Linked DNA regions of Homo sapiens. The protein of the gene in region 1 purifies or fractionates together with the protein of each later gene. This does not show direct contact. Each region holds a gene or a part of one and is shown on either strand. Other genes may lie near its edges.

Region 1 (7,946 bases):
CCCTTCTCAGAAATTTAAACTTGCTACAAAGTATCATAAAAATCAACTTGTGCAAGAACAGACAAATACATCAATGGAACAGAATACAAATTCAGAGACAGACCCTTACATCATACATTAGAATTTGATATATGATAAAAGTGGTTCACTAAAGAGAAAAGTAAATTGGATCCCTAACACCTAAAACAAGGATGAATTCTAGAGGAATCAAGAAGACTTAAATGTGAAAAGTAAAACTATAAAGTTACTGGAAGAAAATGTAGAAGAATGCATTTATGGTGCAGAGTTGGGAAAGAATATATACAAATTATCAAAAATTGCAAACCATAAGGGGAAAAAATGGTCATTTTCATTACACTTAAATTAATAATTTCTATTCTGGCCAGGAGCGGTGGCTCACACATATAATCCTAGCACTTTGGGAGGCCGAGGTGGGTGGGTCACCTGAGGTCAGGAGCTCCAGGCCAGCCTCACCAACATGGTGAAACACCGTCTCTACTAAAAATACAAAAATTAGCTGCATGTGGTAGCTCACACCTGTAATCCCAGCTACTCAGGAGGCTAAGGCAAGAAAATCACTTGAACCCGGTGGGCAGAGGTTGCAGTGAGCCGAGATTGCACCACTGTACTCCAGCCTGGGTAACAGAGCCAGACTCCATATGAAAAAAGAAAAAAAATCTATTTCATGAAGTTCATGAAGGAAAAATTAATATAGAGATGATAGAATGGGAGAAGGTATCTGCAATGCCTAAATCTGACAAAGTAACTGATCTCTCTTTTTTTTTTTTTTTTTTTTGAGATGAAGTTTCACTCTTGTTGCCCAGGCTGGAGTGCAATAGCGCGATCTCAACTCACCACAACTTCTGCCTCCCTGGTTCAAGTGATTCTCTTGCCTCAGCCTCCTGAGTAGCTGGGATTACAGGCATGCACCGCCACACCCAGCTAATTTTGTATTTTTAGTAGAGACAGGGTTTCTCCATGTTGGTCAGGCTGGTCTCGAACTCCCGACCTCAGGTGTTTGGCCGGCCTTGGCCTCCCAAAGTGGTGGGATTACAGGCGTGAGCCACTGTGCCCAGCCTGATCTCATTGTGTTTGTTTGTTTGTCTGTTTGTTTGAGATGGACCCTCACTCTGTCACCTAGGCTGGAGTGCAGTGGCATGATATCGGCTCACCTCAACCTCCGCCACCCGGGTTTATGCCATTCTCCTGCCTCAGCCTCCCGAGTAGCTGGGACTACAGGCGCCCGCCACCACGTCTGGCTAATTTTTTGTATTTTTAGTAGAGACAGGGTTTCACCGTGTTAGCCAGGATGGTCTCGATCTCCTGACCTTGTGATCCGTCCGCGTCAGTCTCCCAAAGTGCTGGGATTACAGGCGTGAGCCACCACGCCTGGCCACGAGTGGATTTTAAAAACATCGTGATTACTGAAAATAAGATCAGAGTGAAATATATAACAAGATGCTATTTATGGAAATTTAAAATGTTTGGGCCGGGCGTGGTGACTCACACCTGTAATCCCAGCACTTTGGGAGGCTGAGGTGGGCAGATCACTTGAGGTCGGGTGTTGAAGACCAGCCTGGCCAACATGGTGAAACCGTCTCTACTTAAAATACAAAAATTAGCCAGGCACAGTGGCGCAAGCCTGTAATCCCAGCCACTCCGGAGGCTGAGACAGGAGAATCACTTGAACCTGGGAAGCGGAGGCTGCAATGAGTGGAGATCGCCCCACTGCACTCCAGCCTGGGTGACAGAGCGAGACACTGTCTCATAAAAAGAAAAAAAAAAAAAACTTTGCACACAAAATGATTTATATTTTGTAAGAGCACAAAGAAAAAAATGAACATTTAATGCACTGGAATAATTGAATGCATTGGAATAAGCATTTGGGTGTGGTGAATCGAACGTGTAGTCTTAGCTACTTGGGAGGCTGAGGTGAGAGGACCGCTTGAGCCCAGGAAGTCTAGGCTGCAGTGATCGGTGACTGTGCCTCTCACTCGAGCCTGAGCAACAGAGACCTCAACTCAAAACCAGTAAAATCGCCGGGCATGGTGGCTCACGCCAGTAATCCCAGCACTTTGGGAGGCCGAGGCAGGTGGATCACCTGAGGTCGGGAATTGGAGACAAACCTGACCAACATGGTGAAATCCCCCATCTCTACTAAAAATACAAAATTAGCTGGGCCCGGTGGCGCATGCCTATAATCTCAGCTACTCGGGAGGCTGAGGCGGGAGAATGGCTTGAACCCGGAAGATGGAGGTTGCAGTGAGCCAAGGTTGTGCCATTGCACTCCAGCCTGGGTAACAAGAGCGAAACTCTGTCTCAAAACAAACAAAAACAAAAATAAAAATGAGACATAGATCAGTGAAGACAGTGTGCTAATAACTGTCATTCGTTCAATCTTCTGTGCTGGAACTCAGGGATCAAGGTCCCCAGAAGCCGGAAACAAAGTGAACCTGTGGAGCAGGAACTGGGTGAGGAAGCTTTCTTTGAAGGATGAAGAGGAGTCCTTTGGAATTCCGGATTTTTTTTTTTCTTCTTGAGACGGAGTCACTCTGTCGCCAGGCTGGAGTGCAAGGGCACGATCTTGGCTCACTACAACCTCCACCTCCTGGGTTCAAGCCATTTTCCTGCCTCAGCCTCCCGAGTAGCTGGGATTACAGGTGTGCATAACCACGCCCGGCTAATTTTTGTATCTTTAGCAGACATGGGGTTTCTCTATGTTGGCCAGGCTGGTTTCAAACTCCTGACCTCAGTCGATCCACCTGCCTTGGCCTCCTAAAGTGCTGGGATTACAGGCATGAGCCACCAGGCCGGGCCGGCATTCCAGATTTTTCAGGGGATTAGTGCAGCAAAGGAATCAAGAAGGGATGTAAAGGCACAGTGTGTTCTGGGTACAATAAGGACTTAGGCATTGCCCAGAACAGGAGGCGAAGGAGATAGAAGGAGAGGCAGGAGAGATAGGTAAGGCCAGAGATCGGATAAGAGAGGCAGGAGGTTTTGTTCACTCTGAAAAGGGATTTGAACTTGGCAATTGGGGCAACAGAGACAGTGACTTCTTGCTTGAGAGATGAGATTGGACCTTCGAAAATTGTTCTCTGCCCTCGTCATAAAGGAAATAAGAGGAGCACGAAGACCAGTGAGGGTGATGGTGATCTGGACTGAAGTGGCAGCCGCCACGGAGAATATCGGATGAATGTGAGAGAGTTTTGGAGGTCAAAGCACCAATGTTGGAAACTAACTGGATAAACGAGGAGAGCGGCGCAGGACAGGAGGAATCGAGCCTGACTTCTACCATAGGGGTGACTGGGCGGGTAATTCATTGAAATAAGGAAGTTAGGAGGAGGAGCAGGTTTGGACATGCTGATCACTAGAGCTGCCACATCCGGGCGGTAACGAACACCTGGATCTGCAGCTCCAGAGAAGGGCCTGGGTCAGATGTCACTGAAGCCCTATGGTGGCGGAAAGGCGAGAAATAGTGGGTTGAGATTCCAAGTGCAATCCACTGCGGCTCCTCGCTCGCCCTCCAGGTGGCAGCACAACCCTGCGCTTCCGAAGCCCGTTTTCTGAGCCAGACACTCTCCACGCTCTGGGTATTTCGGCTTCTCTCTCCCCACACGCCGACCCTAGGTCGCGCACTTTCTGCCTGGCAGAATTTGGCCGAGGATCCAAACCCGGAGCAGCCTCCAGAGAGCGTGTCGTTCACGCGGCCAGCATATGCTCAGAGACCTCAGAGGCTCAGAGACCTCAGGGCTGGTGGTGTGGTCGGTTGTGACCACTTGTCCCTCGGACCGGCTCCAGGAACCAACCTGGGGAATGTGTGTAGGGGAAGGGCGGGATAGACAGTGCCCGGAGCAGGGAGGCGCTGAAAGACAGGACCAAGCAGCCCGGCCACCAGACCCGTTGTGGGAACGGAATTTCCTGGCCCCCAGGGCCACACTCGCGTGGGAAGCATGTCGCGGACTCTTTAAGGCGTCATCTCCCTGTCTCTCCGCCCCCGCCTGGGACAGGCCGGGACGCCCGGGACCTGACATTTGGAGGCTCCCAACGTGGGAGCTAAAAATAGCAGCCCCGGGTTACTTTGGGGCATTGCTCCTCTCCCAACCCGCGCGCCGGCTCGCGAGCCGTCTCAGGCCGCTGGAGTTTCCCCGGGGCAAGTACACCTGGCCCGTCCTCTCCTCTCAGACCCCACTGTCCAGACCCGCAGAGTTTAAGATGCTTCTGCAGCCCGGGATCCTAGCTGGTGGGCGGAGTCCTAACACGTGGGTGGGCGGGGCCTTTTGTTCCAGGGACTCTTTTCTCAAAACTTCCCAGTCGGAGGCTGGCGGGAACCCGAGAGGCGTGTCTCGCCAGCCACGCGGAGGGGCGTGGCCTCATTGGCCCGCCCCACCAACTCCAGCCAAACTCTAAACCCCAGGCGGAGGGGGCGTGGCCTTCTGGGGTGTGCGGGCTCCTGGCCAATGGGTGCTGTGAAGGGCGTGGCCCGCGGGGGCAGGAGCGAGGTGGCGGGGGCTTCTCGCGTCTTTTCCCCCAGCCCCGCTCCACCAGATCCGCGGGAGCCCCACTGCTCTCCGGGTCCTTGGCTTGTGGCTGTGGGTCCCATCGGGCCCGCCCTCGCACGTCACTCCGGGACCCCCGCGGCCTCCGCAGGTTCTGCGCTCCAGGCCGGAGTCAGAGACTCCAGGATCGGTTCTTTCATCTTCGCCGCCCCTGCGCGTCCAGCTCTTCTAAGACGAGATGCCGTCGGGCTTCCAACAGATAGGCTCCGAAGTAGGATTCATCATGAGGGGGCGGGGCGGGGGGGCACGGGTCCCGCTTTTCTTGGGCTGGGGTCGCGGTTGGGGTCAGCTGGGGGTGGTTCCTGCGCAGGCGCAGGGGGTGAAGGTAGGGGGCTGGCTATTTATACCCGGCCTGGACAACCCGTGACTGTGAGATTCCAATCCTACCAAAAGGCAGAGTGGGTCTGGAGGGCCTTTCGGGGCACAGGCAGCAAGTGGATTCTGCGAGCCAGGGTTCACCCCCTTGCCTAGTAGGCGGCGCGGCGCTCCGGAATCGGGGACACCCTGCCCTCGATCCGACTCGGGAAAGCAGATCCAGGCGGGTCTTGCCCTCCGGGAGCTGTCCGTCCGTCTTCGCTCACGGGCAGTGTTTCGAGGACCGGAGGCTCTCCGTGGGCCCCCACCCCCACTCCTGGCCGCCCTCCAGGACGCTGAACTTTCCCTTGGCCCCATGGTTGGTGGAGGGGCAGAGGGGACTGTCAGCCCCCCCTCCTCCAGCTCAGGTTTCCGCTTGGAGACAGTCTGTGCCGCCAGCGAGCGGCCACCACTGCCACCGCCCCTCACACTACCTTCCTGCCCTCCTCCCCTGGGCATGGCTCTCCCAGGCAGAACCCCTGGACGGCCCTCCCTGCACGGAGGTTAGAGGGGGAGGGCAGGCCACGACGTAGATAGAGAAGGCCACCCCTAGATGACCGGGATGTCCTTTCTGGAACAGCACTTCTTGGTCCTGTTGGGGGCCTCCTGGAGCTGGCTGACAGAACCCCCAGAGGGGAGGGAAGAGGACAGTGGCTGATGATAATAATGCACGTGTTAATTTATGAAACCAGCACTGTCAAGGATATTGTTAACATGTGATGTTGATTTTCACAACACTCTCACAGATAGGTAGGCAAGGCAGGCAACATCACCCCCATCTCACAGAGGACACTCAGGTTCGGGGCAGGGAAGTGACTTGGCCAAGGTCACACAAATCTGAGCTCTTAAGGCCAAGCCTGTCTCAAGGTCACAGAAGAATTTTGAGACAAGTTCTCAAACATTTCTCTGCCTTATGGACCCAAACATCCAGTTTCTCCTTTATGCCCAGGTTGCAGTTCAGCTCCTGTTTACATTGAGATCTTTGTGCAATTCCTAATATGGCCCAGTTTCCCTCACCCAACATGTTGGGTGGAGCCCAGTATCTTCAGGCTCCAGCTGGGCCCGGGCCCCTAGCGGAAGGAAAAAAATCATGGTTCCATGTGACATGCTGTGTCTTTGTGTCTGCCTGTTCAGGATGGGGAACCCCCTCAGCAGCGAGTGACTGGGACCCTGGTCCTTGCTGTGTTCTCTGCGGTGCTTGGCTCCCTGCAGTTTGGGTACAACATTGGGGTCATCAATGCCCCTCAGAAGGTGAGGGCCTGCAGCTGGCAGGGTGGGGGTACCCAAACGAGGAGGACAGGTGTCTCGGGGGTGGTGGAAAGGGGACGGTCTGCAGGAAATCTGTCCTCTGCTGTCCCCCAGGTGATTGAACAGAGCTACAATGAGACGTGGCTGGGGAGGCAGGGGCCTGAGGGACCCAGCTCCATCCCTCCAGGCACCCTCACCACCCTCTGGGCCCTCTCCGTGGCCATCTTTTCCGTGGGCGGCATGATTTCCTCCTTCCTCATTGGTATCATCTCTCAGTGGCTTGGAAGGTTCGCAGCTGGAGGGCAGGGGTGGGGGAAACAGGAAGGGAGCCACTGCTGGGTGCCCTCACCCTCACAGCCTCACTCTGTCTGCCTGCCAGGAAAAGGGCCATGCTGGTCAACAATGTCCTGGCGGTGCTGGGGGGCAGCCTCATGGGCCTGGCCAATGCTGCTGCCTCCTATGAAATGCTCATCCTTGGACGATTCCTCATTGGCGCCTACTCAGGTACTCACGGGCACCACAGCCCTGCCTAGCGCCCTGTTCTCTTTCACCATGCCTGGGCTTTCAGATGGGAATGGACACCTGCCCTCAGCCCTCTCTTCTTCCCTCGCCCAGGGCTGACATCAGGGCTGGTGCCCATGTACGTGGGGGAGATTGCTCCCACTCACCTGCGGGGCGCCCTGGGGACGCTCAACCAACTGGCCATTGTTATCGGCATTCTGATCGCCCAGGTGACCGGAGCAAGCCTCATGGGTGCCTGGGCAGTGGTTAGAGTGGGGCTCTGGAGAATATGGTGGGCTTCCAAGGTAAGGCAGAAGGGCTGAGTGACCTGCCTTCTTTCCCAACCTTCTCCCACAGGTGCTGGGCTTGGAGTCCCTCCTGGGCACTGCCAGCCTGTGGCCACTGCTCCTGGGCCTCACAGTGCTACCTGCCCTCCTGCAGCTGGTCCTGCTGCCCTTCTGTCCCGAGAGCCCCCGCTACCTCTACATCATCCAGAATCTCGAGGGGCCTGCCAGAAAGAGTAAGCTCTCCCGCTGCAGCCTGGCCCAGGCCCATGCCTCCGCCTCATCTTGCTAGCACCTGGCTTCCTCTCAGGTCCCCTCAGGCCTGACCTTCCCTTCTCCAGGTCTGAAGCGCCTGACAGGCTGGGCCGATGTTTCTGGAGTGCTGGCTGAGCTGAAGGATGAGAAGCGGAAGCTGGAGCGTGAGCGGCCACTGTCCCTGCTCCAGCTCCTGGGCAGCCGTACCCACCGGCAGCCCCTGATCATTGCGGTCGTGCTGCAGCTGAGCCAGCAGCTCTCTGGCATCAATGCTGTATGTGTGGAGCAGCCTCCAGGCAGGGCACAGCCCCGGGAGGGTAGACGAGAGTGGGGAGCAAACCCCCTCCACCAACACCCAGGGTAGGGCCAGCCTGTTGTGGCTGGAGTAGAGGAAGGGGCATTCCTGCCATCACTTCTTCTTCTCCCCCACCTCTAGGTTTTCTATTATTCGACCAGCATCTTCGAGACAGCAGGGGTAGGCCAGCCTGCCTATGCCACCATAGGAGCTGGTGTGGTCAACACAGTCTTCACCTTGGTCTCGGTAACTGCTCACCTCTGGAATGGCCCGAGCCACTGGCTTCACCTCCCTGGGTGTCCCGGAGGTCCTGCTCTTGGTTGCCCTCACCCACGCGGCCCCTCCTACTTCCCGTGCCCAAAAGGCTGGGGTCAAGCTCCGACTCTCCCCGCAGGTGTTGTTGGTGGAGCGGGCGGGGCGCCGGACGCTCCATCTCCTGGGCCTGGCGGGCAT
Region 2 (7,000 bases), on another chromosome or scaffold:
AGGCAGAGGTTGCAGTGAGCTGGTATCGCACCACTGCACTCCAGCCTGGGTGACAGAGCGAGATTCTGTCTCAAAAAAAAAAAGAAAATATTCAATTTTAAAAATTAGGCGAAGTTTCGATGCAAAAACATACAAGGTGGGAGATTCCTGGTGCCAACAATATGTGTGGGAAGGGAATAGTTACAGAGTAAACACTTCAAAACCATTTGCTAAATTGTAAATGCAAGTATTACCCATTTCTCTGTAGATTTTATTTCAAAATAAAAACGTTAATTTTTAAAAGAGGCAATGCCTCAGCTGGTATTAAAAAAAAAAATGACTTTTGTTTGGTTGGTTTAGGTTTGTTGTTTTGGTTTGGTTTTTGCATATGCACAAAATAAAAGAGGCTGCCAGTGACTTCCTCTGCAGAGGGAAAAGGATATTAGGAAGGTTAGTGAAAAACAAGGAATAAGACATTCAAGAATTCAGGGCCCAGAGAGCTGAAAATGTAAACTGTGAGCTTCACAAGCCAGCAAAGTGGCCTGTACGTGATGTATTGATCTCTGTGCCTCAGTACTTCTCTCTTGAAATCAAAGTACCTGTGGTCTGTCTTAGATAGGTTAGGATTAATGTCTAATCCACAGTAAATGCTTTAAAGGTCCTCAGTGAAAAGATGTTCTGAAATAGTAGTCTTATCCATCTCCTTTGTGAGTAAATCAGAATAAAATATGTTATCAGACTCCCATATCTGCTGATCCTCATTAAAGAAATATACAGAAGAAATATCCAAACTGTATCTAACCTTAGATACAAGTGCTTCTCACGCTTTGTAGTTCAATCAAAGGACTAACATCAGAGTGATGCTAAGCAGCCTGGTTTGCTGGGACACAGTTAGATAGTCTGCAAATCACTCATTTCTGTGTTCACAAGCATATTTCTCAACTCCACAAGGGTATTAGTTGCACAGAACAACATTTAACATCAAGCGAACTAGTCTATTATGCAGCTACTCATTTCAGTAGAATCAGCATCAATAAAAGATATCAAATGACAGCAATTGATACAGACTAAGAGAGAGACTAGAAAGGGGAGAGTCTACAGCAAGATAATAAAATGCACAAGACAGAAAATCTATATATGCATGGAAGGAACTAACGCTAAACAGACAGCAAGCCTAGGTGCAAAGGCCACTAATCTTAACAGTCTGTGAAATTTCTATGTTGTTATTCTGCCTTCACAATTAACTTGTTTACTAGCTTTCTTGAACGAGTTGGTTTTTTTTCTCTAGGAAGTCATTTTCTTACATTCTAGACCTTGGTCAATACTAGGAAATAGTGCTCGTCTCAGCAGCACATATACCAAAATTGGAATGATACAAAGAAAATGATCATGGTCCCTGTGCAAAGACAACAGGCACGTTCGCGAAGCATTCCATTAAAACACACACACACACACACAAACACACAGGGAAATAAAAAATTTTGTTTACATGCCAGTAAACATTGGCACAACATTTTTTTAAATCCATGGACTCAGATGAGCCATAGATCAGCTGAATAGCTATACAAAATTGACTGGTTATTATTATCCTGGATCAGTGATCACCATGAGTGGATTTTTCACTTATCAGGGTGATTTCTGACCTGCTTTTGGATAACATCCAATTAAGACAGATTGCCTTTTGAACCAGCAGAAGGTGTTGAATTGCATACTGTTTCCCATCTGGCTGGTGAAACTGTGGCCATGTGGGCATAGTGTAGGAAGCTTTCTGGATAGGTAGTCTATGGCCAGTTGAACCCACCCCAAAGACACCTTGCCCAGCTGGGAACCCAGAAACAATCAGCAGACAAATAGGTCCACACGAGGCTGACCCAACAAGCCCTCCCAGAGGCAATCAATTTGTCAAATGATCAATTCACCAAAAATGTGTTTCTATTAACTCTTTATAAAATTTACAGCAATTGAAGTGGCATAAGATAGTTTTAACGGCTTATGAGAATTTTTTTTAGCCATTCATTTTGACTGTGCCTTTGCTGTGGCTTCTTTTTCCCATAGGCATCCTAAATCCATGCTGCCATATATTTTGGTGCTAGAGGGAGAGCCATCCACACCCTGGGTCTCTTTGGGTAAAACCATTTAGCATGACAAAGATACATTTCCCTAAGATTCTCTGGAATCCTGGGATAACTCTTCAGGTTATCCCAGGATCCCAAAGGCCTGAATTACTGAATCCTCACTCCAAACCTTTTTTTTCAAACCAATACTACATGTCTAAATTTAAATCGCCAACATATTCATTGACCTGGGTGAGGTCTTAAAATATTTTTACCAATTAAACTAGCAGGAGGAACTTCTAGAAAACAAAAAGAAATAAATAAGTAGGTAGTAAAGTGACAGACTTAGTGTAGGGAAAAAATACCAGTTCAGTTGCATCACTCCTGGATGATAGAAATGTGGTGGATATATACACCATGGAATATTACTCAGCCCTAAAAAAGAGCAAAATAATATCTTTTGCAGCAACTTAGATGGACCTGGAGGCCATTGTTCTAAGTGAAGTAACTTAGGAATGGAAAACCAAATATTGTATGTTCTCCATTATAAATGGGAGCTAAGCTACGGATACACAAAAGCATACAGAGTGGTATAATATAATGGACTTTGGAGACTCAAAGTGGGAGGCTGGGACGGAGAGTGAAGGATAAAAAACTACATAATGGGTACAATGTATACTACTCAGGTGATGGGTGCGCTAAAATTTCAGACTTCACCACCATACAATTCATCCATGTGTCTAAAAACCACTTGTATTAGTCCATTTCACACTGCTGTAAAGAACTACCTGAGACTCAGTAATTTATGACGAAAAGAGGTTTAATTGACTCACAGTTCCTCAGGCTTAACAGAAAGCATGACTGGGAGGCCTCAGGAAACTTACAATCATGGCGGAAGGTGAAGGGGAAGAAAGGGCCTTCTTCTCATGGTGGCAGGAAAGAGAGAGAAGGTAGAACTGCCACATACTTTTAAACCATCAGATCTCATGAGAACTCACTATCATGAGAAAAGCAAGGGGGAAATCTGCCCCCATGATCCAATCACCTCCCATCAGGACCCTCATCCAATTCAACATGAGATTTGGGCAGGACACAAATCCAAACCATATCAACACTTGTACCCCAAAAGCTATTGAAAATTTTTTGAAGTTTTTAATTTAAAAAAATGTGGCACCCCTGAGGCTGTGGCTCGTTTGAGGAATTCTCCCAAAGGAAATTCCCAAGATATGATCCTGTGTGTGATGCTACAAAAGTACACCGTGATTTGTCCTGCCTTGTGGGTATAGGGACTAATAATGTTCCCAAACAATGCTTTTCCGTTCCAGAGGGATTATACTATTTAAACAAAAAGCAGAAACACAGGGTTGATGGTGTGAAGGAAAGGGAATTTATGAGATTTAACAATCTAGCCAGGTGCGATGGCTCATGCCTGCAATCCCAGCACTTTGGGAGGCCGAGGTCTTTTATCAACAATTTGCTCAAGTCTTCTAAAATAAAAACTATGAAGAAGGAAATCTAAATGTAACCCTGAAGGGCTATAATTTAAGAGATGTGAATCATTTTATACACTAATTCTAACAACTGTCCCTGAAAACTTACCTATGAGGTAATTTCTGTATTATAAGTCCCATGTCATAGAAAAGTGTTCCAATGGAGAGAATCTAGGTAATAAATCATGCCTAAATCTTTAAAATTACATTTTGTCTATAATATATAAAGGTCAATGTTGAACAAAATAAATATATGACAGTAATTATAGTGAATATTTTGATATTTATGCCTTTTAATGACATGAAGAAAGATAACACAATGTTTTTAAAGTCTAACAATTCTTTCACCAGAATGTTTAATAGGAATAATTCATGGCTTTCTCTGACTAATCAGATCCTGCCTTTTTAATGAAAATTCTAAGCCTTGAAAAGAGAGCAAGCTGACATAAACTAAAAAGATGGAGAATGTGAATTTACAATGGTTAAAACTCAGCAATTCATGAGCAACTTGAGAAGTACATTTATTAGAGCTCATAAAATAGTAAGCAATAACAGGGAGTGTGTATACTGAAACAAACAGCCAAAGAGATTGAAAGAAATGTAGTCACAGGCTCTTCTGGCACAAATTCATTGCCTTTATTCTGATGAGCTTCTCTTCATGGGATTTACGGACACTGAATTATATCCAGACTCTGCTAACTTCTTGGTTTTCTCCCTCCTATCGCCTAATGACTCTTTAAGCTACTACATGAGTCTAATCCATGGGCATCCTGAGCTTCACAAATTCACGTCGCACCCAGCGAGAAACCCACCGTCTTCACTGAGTCATTCAAAGCTTCCCACTGCTGGAATGGCATCGACATCTGGCTCCTTCGCCAGTGGTCATAGCGGGCTCGACTCTCTTCATTGGTCAGAATCTCCTTTGCCTTCTGCAGTTTCTGAAAAGTCTCCACTGGAAAACAAATCAAGAAATGAGCACTTCTCTCTCGGAGAGGATATTTTAAACTCCAAAACTATCCAACTGCTCTTACTAAAACCATGACTGCCACTTAATAGCTATGTGACCTTGGGCCAATTTACCTCATTAAGCTTTTGTAAAGGGTATCATAAGGACAAGCAAGATCATGGATGTAAAGTGCTCGGCACAGTTTATCCACTCCCTGTATTGTGCCTCAGTCATGTGCCAGAGGCTACTCCCGGTGCTGATGACACAGATGTGAATAATAGACATTATTAGCAGGGGAAAGAAACATTTGTAAACATTGAAAAAATACTATTCCACCTTATAGGAAGAAAACTACCTTTTTTAGTGCTGGGTGTGAAACAGGGCAGTAATTAGGCAAGAGGGACAGTAAAACTGAAGACTATAAAGACTATAAAACTGAAGACTATAAAGACTATAAAGACATGACTGAGGCACAATACAGGGAGTGGATAAACTGTCCCAAGCACTTTACATCCATGATCTTGTTTGTCCTTATAAAGCAGGAAGGAGCACGGTGACTTAGAGGAAGTAGTAATTGCCAGTGTGGCTGGAGGACACAAGGCTAGGGAAAGAACGATGAGGGATGGGGCTGTAGAGTAGACAGACAATAGCTCAATCAACCAGGGCCTGAGATGTCATGTTAAGGATGCTGGCCTGCTTTTTGTCGTAAGAGAAACGGGAGGCTTTAAGTATAATAAATAACATGGTAGATGCTGGGACAAATGGTAGCTTGTCACTAATCTACTTGACCAGATGGTATATAATAGAAACCTTTTATGGCTCTGTTAGAAACACCTCCAAAGTCTCTTCTGCTCCTCAGTGAAGTAAAAACTTTCTGCAGAGCAGAATACAAGATTTATATACAGGCCGGGTGCAGTGGCTCAGGCCTGTAATCCCGGCACTTCGGGAGGACAAGGTGGGTGGATCACGAGGTCAGGAATTCAAGACCCAGCCTGGCCAAGATGGTGAAACCCCATCTCTGCTAAAAATACAAAAAAAAAAAAAAAAATAGCTGGGGGTGGTGGCAGGCGCCTGTATTCCCAGCTACTCGGGGGCTGAGGCAGAGAATTGCTTGAACCTGGGAGGCAGAGGTTGCAGTGAGCCGAGATTGTGCCACTGGACTCCAGCCTGGGCGACAGAGCGAGACTCCATCTCAAAAAAAAAAAACAAAAAAAAGTAGCCAGGCACGGTGGCCCAGGCCTGTAATCCCAGCTACTCAGGAGCCTGAGGCAGGAGAATCGTTGGAACCCGTGAGGCAGAGCTTACAGTGAGCCGAGTTTGCACCACTGCACTCCAGCCTGTCCGACAGAGCAAGACTCCATCTCAAAACAAACAAACAAAAATTCATATGTTGAATTCTTAACTCCCAAAATGATAGTATTAGGAGATGGGGCTTTTGAGATATGATTAGATCATGAGGGTGGAACCCTCACGAATGGAATCAGTGCCCTAATAAAAGAAACCCAGACAACTCGCTCACTCTGTTTCCCCCATGTGAAAACACAGCAAGAAGACAATTAGCTAGGCATGGCGGTGGGCGCCTGTAATCCCAGCTATTTGGGAGGCTGAGGCAGAAGAATCTCATGAATCTGGGAGGTAGAGGTTGCAGTGAGCCAAGATCACACCACTGCACTCCAGCCTAGATGACAGAGCGAGACTCCGTCTCCAAAAAATAAAAAATCAATATACAAATATCAGTGGTGTCTCTACACAGTAGCAATGAACAATCTGAAAATGAAATTAAGAAAATTCCATTTATAAGAGCATCAAGAGCCGGACCCAGTGGCTCATGCCTGTAATCCCAGCACTTTGGGAGTCCGAAGTGGGCGGATCACGAGGTCAGGAGTTCGAGACCAGTCTGGCCAACATGGTGAAACCCCGTCTCTACTAAAAATACAAAAAAAAAAAAAAATTAGTTGGGTGTGGTGGCAGGCGCCTGTAATCCCAGCTACTCAGTAGGCTGAGGCAGGAGAATCACTTGAACCTGGGAGGCGGAGGTTGCAGTGAGCTGAGACCATGTCATTACACTCCTGCCTGGGTGACAGAGCAAGACTCTGTCTCAAAAGAAAAAAAAAAAAGCTTCAAGAAGAATATAATATTTTTAAAAAATTGAACAAAAGAAGGAACTACACAATATTGTCAAAAGAAGCTAAAGAAGATCTAAATAAATGAAAAGACATCCCACGTTCATAAAGATTTACTATTGCTAAAATGATAATACCCCCCAAACTGATCTGCAGATTCAACATAATCTCTATCAAAATCCCAGTTGCCTTTTTTGCAGAAATTGACAATCTAGTCCTAAAATCTGTTTGCAAATACAAGGGACCCAGAATTGCCAAAAAAAAAAAAAACTCTTGAAAAAAATAAGAGCAAAGTTGGAGAATTCACACTTCTGAATTTCAAAACTTATACTACAAAGCTACAGTAGTGAAAACAGTGTGGTACTAACATAAGGATAGACATACTTATAAATGGAATAGAATTGAGAA
Region 3 (7,935 bases), on another chromosome or scaffold:
GTCTCCTTTTTCCTTATTCAAGCTTCCGTGATTTGGTTTGTCAGCTTATTGCATCCTTCGATTTCTACTTCTTTCCCATACAATATTTATTATTCAACTTTTCTCCCTCCTCCTTCATTTTCAGTTGTATTTGTTTGTCAGAATATAATGTATATTCTGCAACGCTTGTCACCACCTTTGTTTTAGTCTTAGATTCTCAATTAAACATTCAATTCTCACCATCAGTTCTTTTGCCAAAAATGAAAATGACCCCAGTCATCTCTTAGGTGGATGAAGCTTATCTTCTGTTAGATTCCCCAGGAAAGTCTTGTAAGTGTGATATTCTCTGAGTTCTTGCATATTTATTTTTTACAGCCTTGATACCTGAAGGATAGCTTGGCTGGCTTGGTTGTAAAATACTTGTTGTGTCTTGCATACACTTGAGTGTCTTTAAAATACTACTCTCCTTGTTATTCTTTTTGTATTTTGCTGCTAGGAAGTCTGATGTCAACCTGGGTATTTTTTGTTTGTTCTAAGTAACAGATTTTTGTGGGTAGGAGGTATGGAAAAGGTTGGACCCCTAAACATTTTGAATGTTCTTTAAAGTCTGTAGATTTGCTGGGATATGTTTTAAAGTTGACTGTTCTGGGTCAATTTTCCCAGACACACAGTGGGCTCTTTCCATATTATATCCAAGTCTTTTATTTCTAGAATGTTTTCTGGTGTTAAACACATTAATACTGTCCCATATTTTATTTATTTTGTCTTTATTTCTTTGGGCATCTCCAAATATATGTAAGTTTTCTTTGCCTAACTTCCATATTAATTTCCATCTAATTCTTTTTACTACTTTCTATATTTAGTTTTCATTCTCTTAGCTGTTTCATGCCTTTCCTCAATGCCGAATATATTTTCAGCTCAATCTATTGTTCTTTAGCTAACTTGTAATTGAGTCTTTATACGAAAATTTTGGCTTTTTCTTCAATTTCTTTTCTGAGTTTAGTAAACTTTCATTTCACAGCATGCAGTTTTTTATCCATTTTGGCTTTAAGTTTTTGAATTTCTGATTTAAGGTGTTTTGTCTTATCTGCAAATGTTTAAGGACATTTAATTCAGATTGGTAGATTGTGTAACAATTTTCTTCTGCTTCATGACTGTTTTTTGAGGGAGAATATTCATTACGTGAAATGTTTTGATTTTCATTTTCTATTTTCTTCCTGTAGTAGTTGTGTACAAATGTCAGCTTCCATGTTTGGTTCATTTTTGTAAGGTCTTATTTTTTCTCAATCAGCAATAATAGGTGTGAAGGTTTGGGGAGGCTTACTAAATTTCTTAGATTAAGAGCACCATCTTTTATTAGTGAAGTGGTTATTTTGGAAGAGGGAAGAAGGTGTATATTTGATTTTGTGATTCTCATTCCCATTTCTCGTGTCTTTCTTTCCTTCACCACCAGTCCTCTAAAGGGTACCTCCTCCTTTTAGGCCATGCCCATCTCCCCGAGAAGCAATGCTTTCCCAAGGTTACTACCTATACTCCTATATATCTGAAGTCTCTTATTTTTGATCCTCCAAGTAAACAGAGTTCTAATCTACCACATCTCAGACCTGTTCTCAGTATGTCTTTGATGAGGGTAGGTCCTTCTCCTTCTGGGGGGTTACTTTATCTGTGGTATTATTGCTAGGCCCCTGCTCCATCTTCTCTTTTTACAGTCTCCTCTGTGATGCTGGCTCCGCTGGATTTGGTGTTTATATGCCCATTGCCATGCCATTTGAACCTTGCAGTATTCTGTCTACCAAATGAGATTGTTGTGAGAATATCTGCATTCATTGTTTGTACAGGGTTTCTTTGTGTGTTTGTTTTTGCTTTTGAGAATGTGTGGAGAGATTCAGATTTAGGCAGTTGGGCTTATTCTACAGGAGCCCAGAACTCCTCAGAAAGTCTGACTTTAGACAGACCTTCTAGGAAAAAAAAAAAAAAAAAAAGCAAACCTAACAATGTCTCTTACATTATCTCATCTACATGGAAAGGATTCAAAGGATAGTGGAGAGGTACAAACCGAGAAAAACTTGAGGAAGGCTCAAAACTCTTGCTGCAAGTAAAATGGGGTAGCTTACCTGAGTAAGGTTCCATTGCAGCTGCTGAGCTGGCTGGACCCCATACACAGTCTGGGGCATAGCTGCCATGCCTGCCATGTAGCCAGCCTGCTGGGTGGTCATCATTCCATTCGGCACACCCATCATTGATGCCTGCATGCCACCCATATAGCCTGCAGGCATGGCCATGGGGGCAACCATCCCAGAAGCTCCTGGCTGAGCAACCATGCCTACTGGTGGAGGCATCATGCTCCCCATTATGCTGTTAGGAGGTGTAACCCCGGGGAAGCTGGGGTAGGCTGTGGGATATGCCATCTGAGCGGGAGCCATGAACATTGCTGCCAAGAAAACACACATACAGGTTGGTTAAAGAGGGAAAAACATAAAGTCAGCCCGAACTCTCCCTGGCTAACCCTTTCCAGCTGGAATTTCTCAGGATTACTCTACTCACAATGCTCTTTACACAGCAAAGTAGTTAGAGTCCCTACGAGGCCTGCTATAGCTTACCAATGGGCTGCTGACCGAGCCATTTTCCCTTTAGGGTCCAGATCCAGACCTTGAGCTAGACTTCACCGAATTGTGACCCCAGACTCCACAGAAGTATGACTCTGAGTTACATTAATTTCCATCTGCTGATACGTTGGTCATGTTCAGGTTTGTTTGGTGTATGACATCCTGGCCCCCAAAGCAACTGTCCTCTGTCACAATAAATAATTCCTGCATGGAAGCCCTCATGTCTCTACCTGGCACATGGCCATGACACCCATGAAATCTACCTTGAGTAGGCATTTGAGGCGTCTGGGATCCATACAGTGAAAGAATGGAGTCTTTAGAGAGCTGTTTCTTGCCTATTTCTTCTGATTTGCTCCCTGGCTCCGGAAACAGGTTCAGATTTTCAGGAACAGAGCCGGCACTCCCTGCAGTTGGCATGGAACCTACAACCTTAGGGCAAAGAGGGCGGGGGGAGAATTGAAATGGTTCTCATGGGGGTCTCTTTAAGGGTCTCCCTTCCCTCTCTGCTGCTCCTAACATCTGCAATAAGAATTCATGGCTCAAGTTAATAGCTTCCTAACATTTTTACCATTCAACTATCTGAACACACCTGATAATTAAGCTCTGTTACAATTCTTTCCTTTCACCAAAACATGTGATTTGGTAGGAACAAACAAACAAAACAACCCACAAATGATGCAGCAGAGGGAACTGAGTTTAGACCCCAGTGTAGCCATTTACTAGTATAACCACAGGCTAGTCACATAACTTTTACAAACTAATGTCTCCACATCTGTAAAATTTCCACTTTGCAGGTTTGTGGTGAAGGAGTGAAATTATTAATGAAATATACAAAATGATATACAAAAACCACCTCACACTGTGCCTGAGACATAGCAGGCGTTTCACGAATGGTAGCCATTAAAGGTTTCAAGTCTTTCCTACCTACAATTTTCTGGCAGTAACTCAGGCCGAGGAGCTAGCCTCAAGTATCAGCCTTCACAGTATCACACACTTTCCAGAGAAGCAACTCAAATGGCCCACCCTTTTTGAGCAGGAGAAAAAAAGGCATGAACAGCAATCTTAGACTGTGACAGAAATGACACAATGTTAAGGGAAGAATGAAGAATCAAGAAAACCAAAGTCCAACTCCACCAAGGAAGCATGACGTGGTTCCATGATTAAGATATCAAAATCACCCATTTCAGAATGTTCTTTAATCCTGAGGAGCCCACAAGACTCACCTTTCTGGAACCGGAAGAAGAAGGGGATGGAACAGAGGCCAACAGATCTAAATCCTTCTCTAGGGTATTGCTGGTCTTACTATTTGCAATGGAGCAGGCCACAGGAGCATCTAGAAAGAGAGATCGAAGTTAAGATGCAGCACTGCTTATTAAGCCCATGCCTTCCTTCTATTCTAGACAAAAAGCAAAGGTGGCCCATAAGCTCATGGACCTAGAAATCTAGACTTCTGGAACCATCTAGCATGGACGGGGCTTCTCAAAAGAGGCTTCACCCCACATTCCCAGAGTGCTCTGGGGAAGCCTGTAGCCCAGCTATCAGGCACAGGGCAGCAGACGCCCAGGCCTGAAGGGTATTTCAGCACCACAGTGGGGGGCTGGCTGGCTCCCTTCTGGCTATTTGAAGGGCAAGGTATGGAGGAGGGTTCATTTTCAGAGAGCAAGGAAAGGTACAGAAATTAGAAGCCTAAGTAGCCAATAACCTCAATCAGCAGAAGCGGATGGAAACAAAGTGCAACCATCAGTGCTGTGAAAGGCAGACAACAGGCTTTCTTTCTGAAAGGGCAGAATCACTAGTTCAGGATTTCAAAGGTTTGGAGAAAAATGACCACAGGCCATCTCAGAAACAGGTTGCATCTGAAAAATGAAAGGAATGGGGGCAGGGAGTGGAGTACAGGGAATTGACATGAGGCTCAAAGGTGCTGTTTAGCAAAACTGCTAACATTTATGGAGGGCTCAGTATGTGCCAGGCATGGGGCTAAGAGCTTTAGAGGCATTATCTCATTTAATCCTTCCAACAACACCTTTGAAGTAGAGACTCATTCTCACTGCACGGATTATGAAAGCAACATTCAGAGGTTAAGTAAACTACCCATGGTCACACAGACAGTAAGTAACACAGAGCGACACTGGCTCCAAAGGCCATGCTCTTAACCACTACACCACACTGTCGCTCTGAAAAGTGTCACAGTAAACACTTCCTTAGAGCAACTGCTCAGATGTAAAACAGATCAGGAAGAATGTGAGAGAACAGTCTTGGCAATGAAGACAAAACTGGAGAACCCCATCTCTACCTATCTTCCAGGGTCACTGAGAATTTATCAAAATTTGTAAGAACATGGAAGCTGAAAAGTCCAACTCTTACCAAGGCCCAACAAATCCATGACAGGCGCTGTGGATTTCGGGGAGCTTTTCCGAGGTAGCTGTGGGTCTTCTTTTTTCTGTGGCTAAGGTGAAAATATGTTATAGCAAGAAATAAGCAGGTGGTTTTGAACTCTTTTCCCATCTCCACTGTAAAGCCACGGTGTTCTTGTGGGTAGGGCTGCTGTTATTCAAAGAGAGTTACCAAAGAAACAAAACTCAGGAAGTATTAGGTGAAAGAATCAAGTCAGGAGGCAGAAGTGCATAAACCAAACCTAAAATGAAAAACAAAGATATCGCCTGTGATTGTCTGGTGTCCTAAAGAGACAGATCTTTCTGAAACCAAGACAACCACAGAACAGGGGATCCAACAGAAGCAGCAGTTTTTGGTCCCAGGAAAAGCCAAGAATAAAGGTAGGTATCTGATGGTACAAGAGCCAAGAGCCAACAAATCTCCCAGTGGTTAGAAAACCTTTTACTTTAACACCAAAAGGGAGGTTGGTTTAAAGATTACCTAATTCACTCTGCCAGTATCACTAGTGATTGTGTCCACAGACAATGTGATTCAGAACGATGATAAAAGACTCTTCCTTAAGCAATAGTAAGTAAAGTCCTCTCTCCCAAGATTCCAAGTTTTTATGTTAGAGATTCTACTACTACAGCCACAATATGTCCTGTGGAAAAAGAAGGGTGTCTGTTTCAACATGACAAAGCAAGAACATAAGAAGGGATCACTTAAAATGGACTAATATGGCCTCACTTCTGGACTGTTCTTCATTGAAATCAGAAAATGGGATACAGAAGGTCTAACAAGAGAAGGACTAATGTGGAAATAGCATCTGCTCAGATGGTGTCCCTCAGCCTTGGCATTCTGGCTTGGAATGTGCCTCTTGCTTAGATGGAACAGATGCATTTCCTGAGTTCTCATCTGGCCCCAAAGCGAAGCCCTTACAGAGCAGATTTAGGCAGCAACTGGTAACGAGAGAGCAGAAATGATAGCAGGCAGTCCAATCCAGATGCAGAACCCTTTAGCCCCAGCTGTGATGGTGCAATGGTACTCACCACGAGACCTCCTACTTTCCCTTTCACAAATATACACATACCTGAGGCTGTCCATACAGTGCAAATACTTCCCAACTTACCATTTTCACCTTCTCAAAAACAACAGGTTCCAATTTTTTTTCTGGAACTGGTTCGCTCCCTCTTTTCCACTTGTCATCTTTTTCTTTCTATAATGATTTAACAAGACAAAGAACACAGGGCCCAAGGTGACTAATAGTTGGATAAATCATAATTCCAAGTGTCCGAAAAGGACACCTCCAATCCCTATTGATTCTGACGTAAGTGTCTGACAAGCTTGGGGGGCGGTGTCTTGGTGTGGAGCATGAGAGTTGACCTCTTCCACATTGGCCTCAATGCTGTACGAGGCGTCTTCCAAACACCTTAGGCGCCCGCCCTCCTAACCCACTCATGACTGTTGACATTTGCAGTCGAGGCTATGTACAGACGCTAAAACATTTTACCAGTATGCTGCCCACCTGTGCCCCAAATTTAATTTGCCCATGCTTTGAGAGGTCTCCCCTCATATCAGTATACTAGTGAATAAGTTCATCTTACTCAGCTTATGTCCTTTGTGATATCATAAATTCAATCATAGGTCCTCTCAATATTCATTTTTTTAACAGTCAGAAAATAAACCTTAATTTCAAGTTTACAGATTAGAAGAACAAAAATTAAGTTTTAAAATCAAATAAACATCTAAATGTAAAACAAAACCACAAAGTAACCTTAAGAATACAGAGTATAGCATACATATGAAAAACATGTTTGGTCTTGCCAGTGATAAAAAATGCAATTTAAAATGCACTTTATGCAGGGAGAAAGATCTTTCTATAATGGTGGGAGGGATGAAGTGAAACCAGTACTCTTATACAATGCTGAGAAGAGAGAGTAAAATGGTACAAATTCTGGAAAGTATATTGGCAAAACTAGGAAGAGACAAATGTTGAAATCCTTTGACCTAGATGATACCATATCTTGTAATGTATCTTACGAAAATAGTCCAAAATATGAAAAAGGTTAAATGCACCAAGTTCACCCCAGAATTATTTATGCTAAAAAAAATTAAATAACATTTATGCCACAGAAGGGAAATGGTAAATAAATTATTACTTTCAGTGATTTAGCTACTCACTGAAAGATGATGCAACAATTAAAAATTATAAACACTATATAAGCAACACAGAAATATATGTTAAGTGGAATGAAGGCACGAGAAGTCTACATAACTGTATTATAATTATGCCTCCAAAAAGAAACTATTTAGAAAAAAAGGGGAACACACCAAGAAGATAATTATTAGCAAAGATAGTGAGAGTATGTATGGATATTTCACTTTAATTTTCATTTTCTCTAAAATAATTTTATAATCAATACATGCAGCTGTTTTTCTCATACAAAGTGTATGTCTTTAACACGACATTTCATTTAAGTTAAAAATGTTTTATCTGTCCATTATAAAAAGAATAGTTTTTAACAAAGCCAGTTTCTTTTCATTTGATATTAAACGTCTTCACTTAGCAAATACTAATTATTGGCATAAAAATCTTCACAAAATATGAAAAAAATCTAAGTACATTAAATAACAAATTCTGAAATAGCTTTTTGGTAAATGGGAGGTTATTTCCTTCCTAAGAGAAACATCCGGTAACCGGGCTTGCTTTCATGGGTACAGTATACCAGCAATGAAATCATGAATACCCTGAGGGCAGAGCTGCTGTTTCCACAATAGCTGTGTACAAATAGCAACTCTACTCCTTCGTCATCTGAATTATCTCAGATACCCTTTTCTGACCTCATCTGAGTTCATATCTTTAGGCACAATGAACAGAGCTGGGCAGACAGACCACAGTTTTCTACAAATAAAACGAAATGTGTATGCTTGGGTTCTAAACTGTTTTTGATGATGCCATGCAAGCTGTAGCTGCACA

Evidence for each region.
Region 2: the proteins of SLC2A4 (region 1) and DNAJC12 purify together in Homo sapiens (affinity purification with mass spectrometry; 3 studies listed by BioGRID and IntAct, with this or other methods). This does not show direct contact.
Region 3: the proteins of SLC2A4 (region 1) and SMAP2 purify together in Homo sapiens (affinity purification with mass spectrometry; 3 studies listed by BioGRID and IntAct, with this or other methods). This does not show direct contact.

The regions. Positions count from the first base shown.
Region 1 is NC_000017.11:7,277,201-7,285,146, forward strand, and holds the start of SLC2A4 (solute carrier family 2, facilitated glucose transporter member 4), read left to right. Parts: upstream 1-4,517; 5' UTR 4,518-4,734; coding exon 4,735-4,767; intron 4,768-6,044; coding exon 6,045-6,161; intron 6,162-6,272; coding exon 6,273-6,445; intron 6,446-6,537; coding exon 6,538-6,662; intron 6,663-6,773; coding exon 6,774-6,889; intron 6,890-7,016; coding exon 7,017-7,179; intron 7,180-7,284; coding exon 7,285-7,472; intron 7,473-7,634; coding exon 7,635-7,739; intron 7,740-7,887; coding exon 7,888-7,946. UniProt on the Homo sapiens protein: Insulin-regulated facilitative glucose transporter, which plays a key role in removal of glucose from circulation.
Region 2 is NC_000010.11:67,807,189-67,814,188, forward strand, and holds part of DNAJC12 (dnaJ homolog subfamily C member 12), read right to left. Parts: intron 4,476-7,000; coding exon 4,336-4,475; coding exon of another isoform or gene 4,309-4,335; exon of another isoform or gene 4,020-4,308; intron 1-4,019. UniProt on the Homo sapiens protein: Probable co-chaperone that participates in the proper folding of biopterin-dependent aromatic amino acid hydroxylases, which include phenylalanine-4-hydroxylase (PAH), tyrosine 3-monooxygenase (TH) and peripheral and neuronal tryptophan hydroxylases (TPH1 and TPH2).
Region 3 is NC_000001.11:40,411,255-40,419,189, reverse strand, and holds part of SMAP2 (stromal membrane-associated protein 2), read right to left. Parts: intron 6,175-7,935; coding exon 6,088-6,174; intron 5,032-6,087; coding exon 4,950-5,031; intron 3,919-4,949; coding exon 3,809-3,918; intron 3,015-3,808; coding exon 2,849-3,014; intron 2,411-2,848; coding exon 2,094-2,410; intron 1-2,093.